2 separate regions of the Homo sapiens genome follow, and region 1 is linked to region 2. Evidence: fine-mapped expression QTL. A gene starts in region 2. The other region holds a variant in brackets. All regions are shown on one strand. Distances are between the middles of the regions.

Region 1 (5,000 bases), 520 kb before region 2:
GTTTGTATGTGGTTTATTCCCATCAAAACTCATGTTGAAAATTGATCCCCAACGTGGCAGTGTTGGGAGGTAGGGACTAGTGGGAGGTGTTTGGGTCATGGAGGAGGATGGGTCACAAATATATTAATGCCTTCCTATAGGGGTGAGTGAGGTCTTGAATTCATGGGAATAGATGAGTTAAAAGAGCCTTGTTTCCTTGGTTGCTTTCTCTTGTGTCCTCTCTCACCATGTGATCTCTGCACATGCCAGCTCCCCTTCCACTCTGCACCATGAATGGAAGCAGCATGAGGCTCTCACCAGATGTGGCTGCCCAATTTTGGACTCTTCCAGCCAACAGAATCATGAGTCAAAATAAATATCTTTTTTTTTTTTTTAAAAAGTTATCCAGCCTCAGGTATTCTGTTATAGCAACACAAAATGGACTAAGACAGGGATGGATGGAAGCAGCTTGGACATGTATACAAAGACTCCCTTGACAGTCTCACAGTGCAGGATAGAGCCAAGGGTAGGAAGAAAAAGGGGTCAGTTCTCTCCCTCCCATCTCCCCCATGTTTTGTCAGAACTCTAAGGATCTGTGAATTCTAAATTTTAACCCAGTCTTCTTCTTTTTTTTTTTTTTTTTGAGGTGGAGTTTCATTCTTGTTGCCCAGGCTGGAGTGCAATGGCGCGATCTTAGCTCACTACAACCTCCGCCTTCTGGGTTCAAGCGATTCTCCTGCCTCAGCCTCCCGAGTAGCTGGTATTACAGGCATGCGCCATCACACCTGGCTAATTTTGTATTTTTAGTAGAGATGGGGTTTCTCCATGTTGGTCAAGTTGGTCTCAAACTCCCGACCTCGGTGATCTACCCGCCTCAGCCTTCCAAAGTACTGGGATTACAGCCATGAGCCGCCGTGCCCAGCCTCAACCCAGTCTTCTAAGTTTGCATGAAGATATATTTGGCAAGATAGGAGAATTGAGTCGTTTTTTTTTTTTTTTTGAGATGGAGTCTCGGTCTGTCATCAGGCTGGAGTGCAGTGGCACGATCTTGGCTCACTGCAACCTCTACCTCCCGGGTTCAAGTGATTCTCCTGCCTCAGCCTCCTAAGTAGCTGGGACTACAGGTGCGTGCCACCATGCCCAGTTAACTTTTGTATTCTTAGTAGAGACAGGGTTTCACCACGATGGCGAGGATGGTCTCAATCTCTTGACCTTGCGATTCGCCCGCCTCGGCCTCCCAAAGTGCTGGGATTGCAGGCATGAGCCACCGCACCTGGCCGAGGATTGAGTATTTTTTATTTAATGGTTGGCCTGATTTGTAACTTTCAAGTATTTTGACATATGGTATATGGCTCTCCATTTATATTCTCATCCTGGGCCCTGCAAATGTTAGGTGTAGGCCTGACCTTAGTATAGGAACCAAGCTGGGCCTTAAGAAGCTCTATACTCAGGAAATTGATTACTGCTCGTATTCTTTCCATTCCTCACCTCTGCTCCTTTCAGAGCATTTCTTTCATCCTTCCTTGGCTTTCTGAAGACCGGCTTCCTTTGCAACTCAGCCTTCAGGGTGAACATGGCCATAATACCTCCAGAGATTGATTCCGTGTTATAGGTCCAAACCCCTGAAGAGCCTAGATCTTGTTTTGGGTACTATTTCCAAATATTTATGAAAGAAACTCTAATCAATTTAGCCTAGGCCCTACCAGCTATGGCCAGGGACACAGTCATGTACAAATTGAGAAGGGGGACATCATGGTGAACTGGCCAGAGGTACTAAAAAGTATCCACTACAATGATAGATACCAGAGACTGGGAAAGGGTGTGTGGGTGGGAGAGGGGGATGAAGGGAGGTTGGTTAACAGTGAGATAGAAAATGTAAGTTCTAATGTTCAACAGCAGAGTAGAGATGCAAGTATTATGTATTTCAAAGTAGCTAGAAGACTTTAAATGTTCCCAACACATAAAAATGATAAATACTCAAGGTGGTCAGGCATAGCAGCTCACATCCATAATCCCAGAACTTTGGGAGGCCAAAGTGGGAGGATTGCTTGAGTCCAGAAATTTGATACTGGCCTGGGCAACATGGTGAGACCCTGTCTCTAAAAAAAAAAATTTTTTTTCTTAGTTAGCTGGGCATGGTGGCATGTGCTATAGTCCCAGCTACTGGCACTGAAGAGCAGGGGTGGTGGTGGGGAGGGCAGAGGTGGGGGGATCACTTGAGCTTATGAAGTCAAGGTCGAGGCTGCAGTGAGCTGTGATTACACCACTGCACTCCAGCCTGGGCGACACAGTGAGACCCTGTCTCAAAAAACACAAAACAAAACACTCAAAC[C/G]TAATGGATACACCAAATACCCTGACTTGATCATCTCACATTGTATATACTAAAAAAAATCACATGTAACCCATAAATATGTAAAGTATTCTGTATCAATTAAAAAAATAAACACAAAAAAGGTATCTACTACAATGGAGCAATTGACTGACCAGCCTGGGTCATTGATCCACTCACACCTTTAGGCCTTAACCCATTAGCAGTGATCTTGGAGCTAGCTGATCTACCCAGTGAGGTCCTGGAAATGAATGAATCACACGCAGAAGCGAAGGAGAAAAATACTACCAATGAAGGGAGAGATTCTCCACAAGAAAGGCTGTAATTTCATTATTGAGTGGCCCATTCTTTAGGGTGGAGACATGCTGGTTACCTAATCACTCATTTAGTGTGGCCTTGTCTACCTCCTAAGCATCTCTCACATCTACACAAATCTACACAGGACTCTTGATCGTTTGCCCACGTTGTTGCAACAATGTTTTCCAAGTCTTCAAAGTTTGCCCCTTCAATCCATTTTGCAATCTGATGATTCTCAAATGCAAATCTCATCACAACACTCCTCTGCTTAAAACTCCTAAACTCCCCCCATTGCTTGAGCATAAAGTACACATTCCTATCTTGACTTATAAGCCTCTTCATGCCTACCCTGTAGCTTCATCCCCACCACCCTTTACCTCCTTTAACATTAGGCCAGCCTGCAATTACTTTCTTTTTTTTTCTTTTCTTTTTTTTTTTATTTTGAGACGGAGTCTTGCTGTGTCGCCCAGGCTGGAGTGCAGTGGCGTGATCTTGGCTCACTGCAAGCTCCGCCTCCCGGGTTCACACCATTCTCCTGCCTCAGCCTCCCGAGTAGCTGGGACTACAGGCGCCCGCCACCACGCTTGGCTAATTTTTTGCATTTTTAGTAGAGACGGGGTTTCACCGTGTTAGCCAGGATGGTCTCGATCTCCTGACCTCGTGATCCACCTGCCTTGGCCTCCCAAAGTGCTGGGATTACAGGCGTGAGCCACCGCGCCCGGCCTCTGTAATTAATTTCAATGTCCTCAAAGAGCGATGTGCTCTCCTCTGGGGTTTTGTACATGTTTTCTTCCTGTCTGGCCTATATTTTCATCTGGCCCTGTCACCTAACTAGAAAAGGAACTAGCTCAGATATGATGATTTTGAAACATTTGTGTGGCATCCAGTAGGCATTTGGATAGACAGGAGAGGGGGTAGGACTGGTTTTAGGAGGCTGAAGAGGGTGCCATCCAGAGGTCAAATCTAGTGATTAGCTTTCAACTCCAGGAAAGACATGCTTCTTCAGAAAGGAAGGCAAGGAAGCAAGAATGGGTACAGGTTTACAGGCTTTTGAAGGGATGAATACAGGAAGGGAGTATTATGCCTGTTGATTTCTGTCAAGTAAAAGGAGAGGTCACATTTACTGATCTGACAGTGGAAGGTAGTCACTTGAGATGAGTAGTGAAGGTTTGGAGTATCAGAATAAGCAGATACAGAATGAGCCAAAGGAATCCCAATTATGACCAGAGACCAGCCCAGAGCTAAGTTGGTAAACTTGGTTTTCTTTACCTAAGCCCAACTACCTGGGCATAAGAGCAGAAGTAGACTGTTGTTTTGGCCTGGGATTTGGCTTTGGCTGGCTGACTCTTTTGGAAAGACAGGAGAGAGACATTTGATGACACTGGGAGAAAATGGTTAAGATTCACGTTGGGATTAGGTTTCTGGTTTCTAGGACTAGAGCTAGTCTATGACAAAGTTTTATAGGTTTGAGCACTATATTTAATGTGACTTACAGTCATTCATTGGGAAAGATGATCCTTTATTCTAAAATTATATGATCTCTACATATTGATTTCAAAATGTGTTTGAAGGCTGGACGCGGTGGCTCACGCCTGTAATCCCAGCACTTTGGGAGGCCGAGGCAGGTGGATCCCCTGAGGTCAGGAGTTCAAGACCAGCCTGGCCAAGATGGTGAAACCCCATCTCTACTAAAAATACAAAAATTAGCTGGGCGTGGTGGTGGGCGCCTGTAATCCCAGCTACTCGGGAGGCTGAGGCAATGAATTGCTTGAACCCGGGAGGCGGAAGGTTGCAGTGAGCTGAGATCATGCCACTGTACTCCAGCCTGGGTGACAGAGTGAGACTCTGTCTCAAAAATAAATAAATAAAATAAAGTAAAATAAAATGTGCTTGAAAAAAATTAAATTATGGTGGTTGTATCATTTCCTAGGGCTGCCATAATGAATTACCACAAACTGGGTAGCTTAAAACAACAGAAATCGGCCAGGTGCAGTGGCTCACGCCTGTAATCCCAGCACCTTGGGAGGCCAAGGTGGGACGACCCCTTGAGCACAGGAGTTCAAGACCAGCCTGGGAAACAGTGAGACCTCGTCTCTACAAAAAGAAAAAAAAATTAGCCAGGTGTGGTGGTGCACACCTGTGATCCCAGTTACTCAGGAGGCTGAGGTGGGAGGACTGTTTGAGCCTGGGAGTTCAAGGCTCCAGTAAGCTGTGAACATGCCACTGCATTCCAGCCTGAGTGACAAAGCAAGACTCTGTCTCAAAAACAAAAAAACAAAAAAACAAAAAACAAAAAAACAAAAAACAAAGAACAAAAAAAACCACAAGTTTATTCTCTCACAATTTTGGAGGCCAGAAGTCCAAAACAAGGTGTTGGCAGGGTTGGTTTCTTCTG
Region 2 (5,518 bases):
CACGCCTGGCTCATTTTTTGTATTTTTAGTAGAGATGGGGTTTCACCGTGTTTGCCAGGATGGTCTCGATCTCCTGATCTTGTGATCCACCCACCTCGGCCTCCCAAAGTTCTGGGATTACAGGCGTGAGCCACCGCACCCGGCCCATTCAACAAATACTTTCTAAGCCCGTGTTGTATGTCCCAGGCATTATGCAAGGCTCTGAGGATGCAAGGAGTGCCCAGCCCAGTAGGGGAGAGAATAGACAGTGATGTAAGAAAAGGACAGGGGTTCAAGACCAGCCTGGGCAACACAGTGACCTGTCTCTATAAAAAACAAAAACATTAAAATGGTCAGGTCCAGCCAGGCGTGGCTCACGCCTGTAATCCCAGCACTTTGGGAGGCTGAAGCGGGTGAATCACCTGAGGTCAGGAGTTCGAGACCAGCCTGGCTAACATGGTGAAACCCCATCTCCACTGAAAATACAAAAAATTAGCCAGGCATGGTGGCGGGCGCCTGTAGTCCCAGCTACTCGGGAGGCTGAGGCAGGAGATTGGCGTGAACCCAGGAGGCAGAGCTTGCAGTGAGCTGAGATAGCGCCACTGCACTCCAGCCTGGGAGAAAGAGTGAGACTCTGTCTCAAAAAAAAAAAAAAAAAAAAACAACCAGGCATGGCAGCAAGCACCTGTAATCCTAACTATTTAGGAGGCTGAGGCAGGAGAATTGCTTGAGCCCAGGAGGCAGAGGTTGCAGTGAGCCCATACTGCACCATTGCACTCCAGCCTGGGCAACAGAGCAAGACTCTGTCTCAAAAACAGAAACAAAATAGACAGGTCCACGTGGTAGCACACACTTGTAGTCCCAGCTTCTTGGGAGGCTAAGGCAGGAGGATTGCTTGATTCCAAGGCAGTTCAGGGCTACAGTGAGCCATGATGGCACCACTACAATCCAGCCTGGATGACAGTCCTGCTCCCGCCTCTTCGGCCTAGAGCAGGAGATTAGAGAACTACAAGCTGTCTCTTGAGGGAAAAAAAAAAAAAATGGTAGTAGTATTTCTACTGAATGCCTATCACTGTTGCACCATTGTAAAGTCAACCAGTCAAAAGTCTTAACCATTGAAAATTGGGACAAACTTAGTTGTTGAAAAGGAGGTTTTGATTTGGGCTTTGCCATTTACTTGTTTTCTGAGAACATATTTCTAAAAATGTACTCTTTATGTCAGTTGGAATTAAGCTGAACTGAGATGACATACTTTGAACACTTTGTAACTTGCTGCTGGTGGGTCATACCTTGGCTTTAGGTACTGAGTAGGGAAATGTCTTAAGTCCCTGTCTTGTTTAGAAAAGGGAGTTTCGGCCAGGCATGGTGGCTCACACCTGTAATCCCAGCACTTTGGGAGGCCGAGGCGGGGGAATCACGAGGTCAGGAGATCGAGACCATCCTGGCTAACACTGTGAAACCCCGTCTCTACTAAAAATACAAAAAATTAGCCAGGCATAAGGCTGGGCGCAGTGGCTCACGCCTGTAATCTCAGCACTTTGGCACGCCGAGGCGGGCGGATCACAAGGTCAGGAGATCAAGACCATCCTGGCTGACACGGTGAAACCCCATCTCTACTAAAAATACAAAAAAAATTAGCCGGGCACAGTGGTGGGCACCTGTAGTCTCAGCTACTCGGGAGGCTGAGGCAGGAGAATGGCTTGAACCCGGAAGGCGGAGCTTGCAGTGAGCCCAGATAGTGCCACTGCACTTCGGCCTGGGCGAAAGAGCGAGACTCCGTCTAAAAAAAAAAAAAAAAAAAAGCCGGGTGTGGTGGCAGGTGCCTGTAGTCCCAGCTACTGGGGAGGCTGAGGCAGGAGAATGGTGTCAACCTGGGAGGCAGAGCTTGCAGTGAGCCGAGATCGTGCCATTGCACTGTAGCCTGGGCAACAGAGCGAGACTGTCTCAAAAAAAGAAGAGAAAAGGGTGTTTCTTGGCCGGGCGCAGTGCCTTACGCCTGTAATCCCAGCACTTTGGGAGGCCAAGGCGGGCAGATCACGAGGTCAGGAGATCAAGACCATCCTGGCTAACATGGTGAAACCCCGTCTCTACTAAAAAATACAAAAAATGAGCCAAGCGTGGTGGTGGGCACCTGTAGTCTCAGCTACTTGGGAGGCTGAGGCAGGAGAATGGCGTGAACCCAGGAGGCAGAGCTCATTGCAGTGAGCTGAGATCGCGCCACTGCACTTCGGCCTGGGCGACAGCGAGACTCCATCTCAAAAAGAAAAAAAAAAAAGTAAAGAGGGTTTCTTAAGAAATATGCGGTCACCTCAGAGCTCCTCCATATATTTTGGGAGTGGGAGTGGAGTGAAGAATTTCACCAACAGTTCAGGGTCTTTCTGGCTTCTGGCCAATCTTGGGAGAGAGAAGGGGTTTTTTTCTGGACTTGATTCCCTCATCTGATAGATTCATTCTGTTCGCCCACAGCTTTCATTTCTTGGGCTGTGCTGATTATCTTCGTCTACAGCTGAAAAATGAGGAATCAGGGAATGGGAGTTAGGGAGACTGCTATCCCTGGTGCGACATGGTTTCCAGGCAGAATGCTGGAAAGGTCAGAGTGCCTCCTTTGCCAGGTAGTTCTCTGGATTGGAGAATGGTACAAACTGTTACATCCACTTGGGAGTACAGCAATGAAAAAGATGACACTTGCCTTTTAGAGGCTATTAAATGACCAATGATGTAGTAAGTGATAAGGGCCCAGCCTAGTCTAGGAGGCAGCTGCTTTTTCCTCTTTATTAATAGTCAGGGAAACCAAGCTACAATTAGAGACTTGCCCACGTTCAGACTTTGTAACACTTTTTCAAGCCAGTGGCTCCTCCCAAACGGCCGAGGTTTCCCCACCCATTCTCCTGACCTGCCCAGCCCTGTGGTTGCTGTCCAGGGAGCTAAGGCTCTCCCCAAACAAACTTGAAGATCTCACAGACCTAATAGACACGGCCTTTCCTCTCTGCCTCTGGCTTTATGTCTCTTTCATCCTCCTCTGCCTTTCCCCTGCCCTTGATCCCTTCTGCAGGTCTTGGCTGGTTTCAGGAAACGGGTCCCATCCCATGGACTCCCACTCTGGGGAGCCTGCGCTCCTGCCCTGTGGGACCTGTGACATGGTTTTCCGCTCCTCAGCTCTGTTAGCCACCCATACTCAGCGCTTCTGCATTGGCCACCCGACCCAAGAGATGACATTTGGAGCACAGGCATCAGTTGCCACTGAACCCCAGCGGGCCGCGGTAAGGGCCTCCATGGCCATGGGTGGGGATTCAAAGGAGCCAGGACCTTTATGATTCCTCATCCTACTACACCCTATCCCCAGGTTGTGCCACAAGAACACCAGGGCGTGCCACAAGAACCCCAGGGCCTCCCAGACCAGCAGGCCAGTAGATCTGCTCTAAAGAGGTTAACAGAGGAGGTAGAGCTACCTACCTTCCCCCAGGGCTCAAAACGTTGAGCGTCTTCCCCAAACCTGTAGATCATACTTGGGACAGATTCTGCCCACGCAGAGATCGCGGATCGCTGTTACCTCCAGGTGCAGTGGCTGCGGCTATCCCTACAGGAAATGCGGCCCTGGATAACAGAGGTCCCCAGGGTGTTCGCGGGGCCCTGGACACGTTCCGAGGCGCGGCCTCAGAGTCCCATGTCCGAGGCGGTGGGAAGCCCCAGCGAGCGGCTGCGGGCGCTGTTCAGGACTCGCGCGAGGCGCGTGGCGGAGATGGAAGCGCAGAGCCGGGCCCTGCAGCTACGCGGCGAGGGTGAAGGAGATGGGGGACGGGGACCAAGGACCTCCTCTGCCCTCGCCGTTTGGCTTAAGCTTGCTCGGGCCGGTTCTGACTCGGCCCGCATTCCCTCAGAACTGAGCCGACGCCTCCAAGTTGTGGCCTGTACGCGGGGCGGGATGTCCCGCCTCTTCGGCCTGGAGCAGGAGATTCGAGAACTACAAGCTGAGGCCGGGAGGACGCGGGGAGCTCTAGAGGTGTTGGGGGCCCGCATTCAGGAGCTGCAGGCGGAGCCAGGGTGAGACCCGACTAAGCGGATCCCCGGAACATGCGGCTCCGGGGTGGGAGGGGCGGGCTGGCTGCAGCCCCGGGGCCTCTGATGCGTTACCGTCTCCCTGCGCGTCGCCTGCCACCCCAGGAACCCGCTGAGCTCCCGGCGAGAGGCAGAACTTTATTCTCCAGTGCAAAAGGCCAACCCGGGAACTCTGGCTGCCGAAATCCGGTGAGAGCCGGGGCCGGAGATGGGCATAGGGCGAAGCGCTGAGCAGTTCTGGAAAGACGGCCTTCCTGTTCCCCACTCCCTAGGGCGCTGCGGGAGGCCTACATTCGAGACGGGGGCCGGGACCCCGGCGTGCTGGGCCAGATATGGCAGTTGCAGGTGGAGGCGTCTGCACTGGAGCTGCAGCGGTCGCAGACCCGCAGAGGTGAACAGGAGGGCCTCTCGCCAGCGGTGGTCAGTCCTGGGAGGAGAAAAGAACTCGAGGGAGGGCCTGTGGCTGTGGATGGCATGTGAGCTGACAAGTCCAGCCTTATCCGAAGAGCCTTAGCGCTGGAGAGCTGCTCACAGCCGGACGCGGCCAGTCACCAGAGGTCAAAGGTGACAGGTCACACTTGTTCATCGCAGGAAGGGCAGGTGCCACCTCAGGGGAGCTTCCAGTAGTGGAGGCTGAAAACCGGCGCTTGGAGGCAGAAATCTTGGCCTTGCAAATGCAGAGGGGTCGGGCACCCTTGGGTCAGTGAGCACCCCAACCCTATCCCATCCCACTTATCTCTCCCCAGCAGGCCTGGCTCAGGCAGACAGTGCATGGGGAACAAGACCCGTGTTTGTGACTCCCCTAGTTCATGTCTGCACGTGTGTATCCCTGTATCCACAGGGCTCCGCCAACCCATTTGTGGGCCCAACTCTTGGGGGAGGGGTATCTCAGCTAATTACCTGCTTTGTCCAACTTAGGGGCACCCTAACTCTTCTGCTCCTAGGGCCCCAGGATCTGCGACTCCTGGGGGATGCCAGCCTACAACCGAAGGGGAGGAGAGATCCCCCACTCCTCCCGCCACCGGTGGCACCACCGCTGCCACCACTTCCAGGCTTCTCGGAGGTTCAGTTCTTGGGTGGGGCAAAGGCTGTGAGGACACGGGGTGGGTTGGGGGAACAGGTTGGAGGCAGCTCTGCTCTGAGCAGTTGGGGGAACATGAGCAGCTACAAGGCTTTCTGGAGGAGTCAGCTCTCTTCCCCACAGCCACAGCTTCCTGGAACAATGACCAGAAACCTGGGCCTGGACTCACACTTCCTCCTGCCCACATCGGACATGCTGGGCCCTGCACCCTATGATCCTGGGTGAGGCCCGTGCCACCTTCGACAGCCTCTGTGACTTGGCCAGCACTGCTGGTTAAGGGAGCCCACTAGGACCAGATAGGGTTAGGGACCTGCCTGAGAGGAGGGAGGTTGAAAGGAGTTGGGTATTTCTGTGCTAAGACTTGTGTTCCCCAGGGCTGGCCTGGTCATTTTCTATGATTTC

The links. PIP is the estimated chance that this variant, and not a neighbour inherited with it, causes the effect.
Region 1: its variant is fine-mapped to the expression of CCDC17 in whole blood (TOPMed, PIP above 0.99).

What each region holds. Positions count from the first base shown.
Region 1 is chr1:46,140,746-46,145,745 of GRCh38, reverse strand. All of the region lies in intron 1 of P3R3URF-PIK3R3 (P3R3URF-PIK3R3 readthrough), which reads left to right. It also overlaps a transcript of PIK3R3 not described here. Among named protein-coding and RNA genes, the nearest start is that of PIK3R3, 11 kb to the right of the region's middle. The variant C/G (reference allele first, on the strand shown) is at 2,312.
Region 2 is chr1:45,621,457-45,626,974 of GRCh38, reverse strand. CCDC17 (coiled-coil domain containing 17) reads left to right here and starts at 2,921. Exons shown (of 13, transcript NM_001114938.3): 1 at 2,921-3,239; 2 at 3,323-3,418; 3 at 3,536-3,758; 4 at 3,858-4,020; 5 at 4,141-4,224; 6 at 4,308-4,426; 7 at 4,627-4,734; 8 at 4,980-5,098; 9 at 5,240-5,337; 10 at 5,491-5,518. The coding sequence starts at 3,066.